Linked DNA regions of Homo sapiens. The protein of the gene in region 2 interacts with the protein of the main gene of each other region in a pairwise test. Each region holds a gene or a part of one and is shown on either strand. Other genes may lie near its edges.

Evidence for each region. Proteins that work in one complex are often made in the same cells at the same time.
Region 1: the proteins of MYPOP (region 2) and KHDRBS3 interact in binary tests that used the Homo sapiens proteins (3 or more experiments, as listed by UniProt).

What each region holds. Positions count from the first base shown.
Region 1 is NC_000008.11:135,460,416-135,464,164, forward strand, and holds part of KHDRBS3 (KH domain-containing, RNA-binding, signal transduction-associated protein 3), read left to right. Parts: intron 1-3,217; exon of another isoform or gene 3,218-3,473; coding exon of another isoform or gene 3,474-3,561; intron 3,562-3,749. UniProt on the Homo sapiens protein: RNA-binding protein that plays a role in the regulation of alternative splicing and influences mRNA splice site selection and exon inclusion. Binds preferentially to the 5'-[AU]UAAA-3' motif in vitro.
Region 2 is NC_000019.10:45,901,237-45,904,985, reverse strand, and holds the start of MYPOP (myb-related transcription factor, partner of profilin), read left to right. Parts: upstream 1-2,372; 5' UTR 2,373-2,416; intron 2,417-3,160; 5' UTR 3,161-3,212; coding exon 3,213-3,711; intron 3,712-3,749. UniProt on the Homo sapiens protein: Transcriptional repressor; DNA-binding protein that specifically recognizes the core sequence 5'-YAAC[GT]G-3'. Dimerization with PFN1 reduces its DNA-binding capacity.

The sequences.
Region 1 (3,749 bases), on a different chromosome or scaffold from region 2:
TCATGTCTTCTCTTTTCAGGAAGGCAGCTGAGGATCCCAGCTATCTAAGCTTTTGGGCAACTGAGATTTAATTTGAAATCTCAGGTCTTCTGTCTCTGAAGAGGTTGTTCTTTCTTATTTTGGCTTCCTAAAATGTTGGAATGAAATACTTCTCACTTGCTAACTTCAGACCCTGCAGAAATCAATATAATTAGTATGATTGTTTCCAACTGACTTAAATGTGTAGGAAATAGTATATATCCTTTAGGAAGTTTATCCTGATTTTTACAGAAAGTTTCTGTCTGCACTTGCCTTCTTTGAAGAAGCAAACATTCACGGTAGATTTATCTTCCAGGATTTTGATGCTGAGGCCAAGAGGCAGTTTTGAATTAAAGCCCTCCTGTGACTAGTGTATTAGTTTAATAATCAATGCATTATGATAATGAAGCAGTTTATAGATGAGGTGTAGTCGTTCTTTAAAAATTCAGTGTTCGTAAAGATTGATCAACTTCCTAACTGAATTACTCTTTTTCTTTCTTGAGCTAGGATGACAATAAGAGATATACTCCTGTCTGGTATACATTGGCTTTTATATTTTTCCAGACTTGTGTTTCATCGTGGGCACTGATTGCTGATTTTATTTTCATTTTACCAGAATAACTGGTTCTCCTCCTCCACCTCCTAAATGAATTTGTTTCCCGAATATTTATTTATTTATTTTTTTGAGACGAAGTTGCCCAGGCTCTGTTGCCCAGGCTAGAGTGCAGTGACACAATCTAGGCTCACCGTAACCTCTGCCTTCTGGGTTTGCGCGATTCTCCCGCCTCAGCCTCCCGAGTAGCTGGGACTGCAGGTGTGCGCCACCATGCCTGGTTAATTTTTGTATTTTTAGTAGAGACGGGGTTTCACTGTGTTGGCCAGGCTGGTCTCGAACTCCTGACCTCGTGATCTGCCTGCCTCAGCCTCCCAAAGTGCTGGGATTACAGGTGTGAGCCACCGTGCCTGGCCTCTGAATTTGTTTCTCTAACAAAATTAGTGGTTAATGTTTATTTGATGTTAAAAGTCAGTCAAAGAAAATAGGCTTTGGGATCCCACTCCGGACCCCGCCTTGGTGCCTGTAGGGTGAATTGACATTGCAATTCTTGCCAAGGAGAGGTTAATTGCAGATGAAAGTGGTGTTGCATGTTTTATATTTGCTAGTAGGGGATGTGCTGACTCTTACTAAAAAACATCTTTAGAAATGTCTTATGCATTATAATTTAATCCAAGTCTCTGATATTGGTTTGGATGGTTTTCAATACAAGCCAAGTAACCATTAAATAAGATTACATAACACTGTATTTTTAATTATCTGATATAATGTATGGATTGGTGGCTGGCTCACTGCCAAGTTACATTTAGTTGTCGTTGATTACAAGAGAAAGTGGAGCTGAGGATTCAAGATTAAGGTGGTCCAGATTTGTGTCTAGGTTGATAAAAGTTTTTTGTTTGTATATCAAAATGGTTTTTATATCAGTTTCTCAAATATTACAATTCTTAGCATTACTTAGAATAAATATGGAGGATAAAAATATATTAAGGAAGGATTATTATTTTATGTACATCTCTTTGTAATCCACAAAACCCAGGGGCTTAAAACTTGATTTTTGGGGACCCCTTTTGGAAAACATTTCGGATTTGCTTGAATGTCACAGACTTGTAAAGTAGAGAGTAAGAATGAGAACTGCAGAACTGTATTTAGGTATGGTGCCTTCATGCTATAGTTTGTGATTTTCTGTTTCATCCAAAGGAGGATGTGATTATTTAGTTTTTAGTTTTTTATTGTTTTTCTTTGTGTTATCAGTTTTTTTTTTTTTTTAAGAAAATGCGATCACTCACAGTGTTAGATATGCCATTTCTGAGTTTTATACAGTGTATTATGATTAAAAGTGACCCAGTGATTGTGAGTTACAGGGTTTTGGTATTGGACATTAGTAACAGGCTTATAGAGAACCTGCCATGCTGGTTCTCTGTGTTGGGTCCCAGGGGTAGGGAGGAAAAACAGTCTGCACTGGTGAGAAGCTCCTGCTCTCCTCTGTGTGCGTTTGAGAATGAATTTTCGGTTTGTAGATGCCCTCTTTCCTAAGGAACATCTTAGTCCTTCAACTATGCTGAAATATTTAATGATTGGATGGCTTAGATTTACTGTTAATAAATCAGCTTGTGGACATTTTTGAGGCACTTGTTGGTACTGGGTCATGTTTGTAATCTCGATACTGGTAACAGCTCAGAGATGGAGAGGTTATTAGCCTAGTTTTTCAGTTGTAGAAACCAAGATTCTGACAGCTAAAGTGACTTGCCCATGGTGACATGCTTATAATAAAATGTCAGAGTGAAGGGTCAAGCTTTGTTCTTTTACAGGTCCATTGTTCTTTTTACCATGTCCTACTGACTCTCAGTAACACTGAGAGTCTAAAGGGCTAAGTTACTGGCCAACCTGTGATGGTATAATTAGTGAATGATAGAAGGAGAATCAAAACCCTGGCTTTTTTATGTGCAGTTTGTTTTTCCTCTAGCCTGTGCTGAATTGAAAGATAAATTATATAGCATCCATTTTCATACTTCATTCTTCACATTTCTGCCCTAAGATAAGTCCTCTGACCTTTTTCAAAATGGGTTGGATTGCCTGTTTTCTGGTGTCACATAACACCTGGTGCTCTTACGGTGTGATCCTCATCACACTGCTTTGTTTGGATCTTTGTCTTTCTTGGTAAAGAGTGAGTTCCTCGGAAGACAGGGCCTGGTCTTTCCTCTGTATCTTCAGCACCTAGCATACGTCTGAGCACAGGGCCCTTGGGAACTCCTGTCTTCATTTCAGTGTTACGTGTTAATTATCATTAAGGGTAGCAGAATCAGAAAGTATATTTGGAATTTAGCAGTCAGTAAAGAGCTTTGCTTCTTACAGCTTTAGAGGACCTGAATTGGAGGTGGGGATGAAGTCAACAGTTCTGCCCATATCAATGAAAGAAGGTTCTGAGTGAAATGCAGGGTTGAACAAGCAGAAAAGCATCCCAGTGCTCTTTAAATGTGGTTGCACAGTAGGGATCCTTCTCTAGGAGATAATGAGAAGATGTTGTCAGATCTGCTTTGAATCAGATGTTTATTTACTTTTATTCTTTCTTAAGGAATTTATGAAATCACTGCACTCTCATCAATTTGCTCTCCTTCTCTAAACTCCTAATGATATTTCTCATGACAGATTAAAAACAGAATTTTGGAAGCCCTAGTCACATGCCAAATAAGGTTTCTTACCTGAGAGAGTTATCCGCAGTTTCAGATGCCAAAGGGAAACTCCGAAAGCCAGAGGAGCGATTGAAACCGCAAATTGAGTGCCAACAGCAACTTTGATATCAAAAGCCCCATTTGCCTGTTGTCACCAGTCCCGCTGAGTGAAGATAGAATGACTTATATCTTCTACCAAAACAATAGAAGGAGAGTGTTCCTTGGCGTTGGGGATGATGATTATAAAAGCCACCAATTTGAGGCTCTTCCGTGCCAGCTGCTTTCTGTGCATTCTCTCCCATCCCCGCAAGATCTTGCAAGGTAGGAGGTTTTATTCCCTGCGTGCCTCCTTTATTTTTTTCAAATGAGGCCTCTAAGGCTCAAAAACACTAAGTAACTTGCCCAGTCAAGGTACACAGCTTATAAGTAGTCAGGCTGAAATTTTAAACCAAGTCTGCAGTATTTTGTTAAGATACTTTAAGAAAAGAGGTAAAAGGACAGAACTCAAC
Region 2 (3,749 bases):
CTTTACACTCACGTATCTTTTTTTGATTGTGTTTTTTTTGTTGTTGTTCTTATTTTTTTAATTTAATTTTTTTTTGAGGCAGAGTCTCACGCTGTCCCCCAGGCTGGAATGCAGTGGCGCAGTCTCAGCTCACTGCAAGCTCAGCCTCCCGGGTTCATGCCATTCTCCTGCCTCAGCCTCCCGAGTAGCTGGGACTTCAGGCGCCTGCCACCACTCCCGGCTAATTTTTTGTATTTTTAGTAGAGACGGGGTTTCACCATGTTAGTCAGGATGGTCTCAATCTCCTGACCTCGTGATCCACCTGCCTCGGCCTCCCAAAGTGCTGGGATTACAGGAATGAGCCACTGCGCCCGGCCTTTTTTTTAATTTTTTTGAGACAGAGTCTCACTCTGTCGCCCAGGCTGGAGTGCAGTGGTGAGATCTCGGTTCCCTGCAATCTGTGCCTCCTAGGCTCAAGAGATTCTCCTGCCTCAGCCTCCCGAGTAGCTAGGATTACAGGCACATGGCACAACACCCAGCTATTTTTTTTTTTTTTGAATTTTTAATAGAGACAGGGTTCCACCATGTTGGCCAGGCTGGTCTCGAACTCCTGACCTCAGATGATCCACCTGTCTCAGCCTCCCAAAGTGTTGGGATTACAGGCGTGAGCCACTGCACCCAGCCTTACATTCACCACATCTTACCTGACCCCACACCCCCAAGTGAGAACCTGGGCCAGAGACTTGGGTTTCACCTAGACATCTTCCTTTCCCTCGCTAGCGCGACACTCACCATGCTTTCCATATATTCTCTCAAATGTCTCTCCGTGTCCCCCTTGACACTGTCCCTGTCTTAGTTTAGTCTCCCCTCGCTTTCCTAATCCTTTTCTTACCCCTGCTCATGACTTTTTTTGACTCTACCCAGTAGTCTTGCTCCCTCCCACCCACCCTCCACACAGCAGGCAGAGGGGCCTTTTTTTTCTCTCTCTCTTCTTTTGAGACAGGGTCTTACTCTGTTGCCCAAGCTGGAGAGCAGTGGCCTGATCATAGCTCACTGCAGCCTGCAACTCCTGGGCTCAAGCGATCCTCCCGCCTCAGCCTCCCAAGTAGCTGGGACTACAGGCATGTATTTTTTTTTTTTTTTTTTTTGAGACGGAGTCTCACTCTGTCGTCCAGGTGGAGTGCAGTGGTGCAATCTCAGCTCACTGCAACCTCTGCCTCCCGGGGTTAAGCGATTCTCGTGCCTCAGCCTCCCGAGTAGCTGGGATTACAGGCATGCACCACCATGCCCAGCTAGTTTTTGTATTTTCAGTAGAGATGGGGTTTCACTGTGTTGGCCAGGCTTGTCTCGAACCCCTGACCTCAGGTAATCCGCCCGCCTTGGCTTCCCAAAGTGCTGGGATTACAGGCGTGAGCTCCACCGCGCCCGGCCCAGGCTACGGATTTTAGCTTTTATGTTCATTGTACCAGGAACTGTGTAAGTGCTCATGTATATTTATTGAGTCGATGAATGAAGCACCAATTGTCGAATGACCTTGAGGACTCCTGCAGGATGCTAACGAACACACTTCTCAGCCGGACTGAGCTCCATCATCCTGCCATGCGGCTCACCCCACCTGCGTTCTGGCTTCATTCCTGTCTCCATGCACTTGCTTAAAGTCGTGCCGGCGTCAGGATCTCCCTTCCTACCAGCCAGGAAGCTCTTCCCTCTTATTTTCCCCGCTCCTCGAGGTAAAGGTGCGCACAGAGGGGCCCCCAAGGCGTGACTGGAAGGCTTGTGGGTCGCTATGGTTACTGCATCCGCCCGGGGCGGGACATCCCCAGGACGCCCAGCCTCTAGGGGTGCGAGGTGGGAAGCTCTGGAGCGGCCCAGCGCAGGGGCGGGCAAGCCAGGAGGCAAAGCGGTTTCCTCACGCCTCCACCCCACCCACACAGTTGTCAAGGAGACAAAGCGCTTCCCTTCAGCGCTGTCTCCCTCCCCTTTGGTTAGAGGGCAGGGTGGGCTGGAAGACTGTCCGAAAGGTTGGGTACTGGCGCGCTCCCAGCATCTCTCCCATCCAAGCTCGCAACGCCTGCGCCGAGACCCGGTACCGGGTACAACCCGAGGCACGCGCATGCGCGCGATGGAGTTTTTGCGCGTGCGCCGTTGTGGCCCCAGGAAGCTGGGGTACCCGCGCGGCGCTAACGTTGCGGCTGCGCAGTTGCGGCCTGCTGGTGGGGCTCGGCGGAGCGCAGTTCTGCGCCTGCGCTGTGCTGGGGTAGGTGGGAATGAAACCCTGGCGGTAAGGGCATTGGGGCCGACTGGCCCTGGGCGCGCCTGCGCCTTGGCATGCGGGGCGGCCGGAGGCGGGGCCGAAAGAGGGGAGGGAGGGAGGCGGGGGGTGGGAACAGGCCGCAGAAGCCCGAGCCCTGACCCACCGGCGGCTGCGGCGGAGCCGGTGAGTGACCCGTGGCCCGACTCGGTCCCCACCCTCCGCGACCTTCGCTCTCCCTGCCGTCCCCCGTAGCCTCCGTTGTCTCCTTGTGATACGGGACCCCCGTTATTTCCAGAGCTCCCCTTAATTTCTGGCAATCCCCAGAGCCCCCACAATCCTCGCAGACCCTGATCCCTAATATTTGATCGTTCCAGCTCTTCCAGTGATACAGGAGCTCCCACCTCACCATTATTCCTGGACATCCCTCTAAGGGCCCTTCTCATATCGGTCTTACAGACGCCCCGTTGCCCCCTAGAGCCCCTAGAGCGCCTCCTCTGCTCCAGATTCCCCCCTTCTTGCTGCATCCCCCCTTCCGCATCTCCTTATCTTCATGCATCTAAGACCCCCCCGAGGCACCCCCATCCTCCCTCCATTTCCTATCCTCCCGTGCCCCCATTCTCTAACTCCTGCAGACACCTCCTCTCCTCGCACTTTTCCTCCTTTCCTTCCATCCCTCCAGACCCTCCCCCAATTTCTATCAACTCTTCAGCGTGGCACTTCGCGCCGCGCGAAGTCCGAGCCAAGCGCTCAGCCGGTGTCAGCTACTCTTAGGCGCTTCCGACTTACCCGGGTGCCCGTCGCCCCCGCCCGCCCCCCGCCCCCACTCCTGCCCCCGGGGACTAAGGAGCTCTCGGCCCGGCGGTCTGGGAGAGGCGGCGGCGGGGGGACCCCGAACCCCAGCCAGCCCCGTGCGCCCTTTGCCCGCAGCGCCGGCGCCCCCCATGCGCCAGACGGCAGGACGGCGGCGTCGGGGGGCGCCATGGCCTCGGCGGCGGCGGGCGAAGCGGAGGAAACCACCCGGTTGCGCAAGCCGCGCTTCTCATTCGAAGAGAACCAGATCCTGATCCGCGAGGTGCGCGCCCACTACCCGCAGCTCTACGGCGCGCAGAGCCGTCGGGTGAGCGTGGCAGAGCGGCGGCGCGTGTGGGACGGCATCGCCGCCAAGATCAACGGTATCACCAGCTGGAAGCGCACGGGCCAGGAGGTGCAGAAGCGCTGGAACGACTTCAAGCGCCGCACCAAGGAGAAGCTCGCTCGCGTGCCGCACTCCACGCAGGGCGCCGGGCCCGCCGCGGAGGACGCTTTCTCCGCGGAAGAGGAGACCATTTTTGCCATCCTGGGGCCAGGTGTGGCGGCGCCGGGGGCAGGTGCTGGGGCGGAGGAGCCCCCTGCGGCCCCCTCTTCACAGCCGCCGCCCCCAAGCGCCTGCCCTCAGCGCTACGTGTTGTCGGAAGACCGCCGGGAGGACCGACGTGCAGGTGAGTGTCTTCAGAGTAGGCTGTGTGCCTGCGCTGTT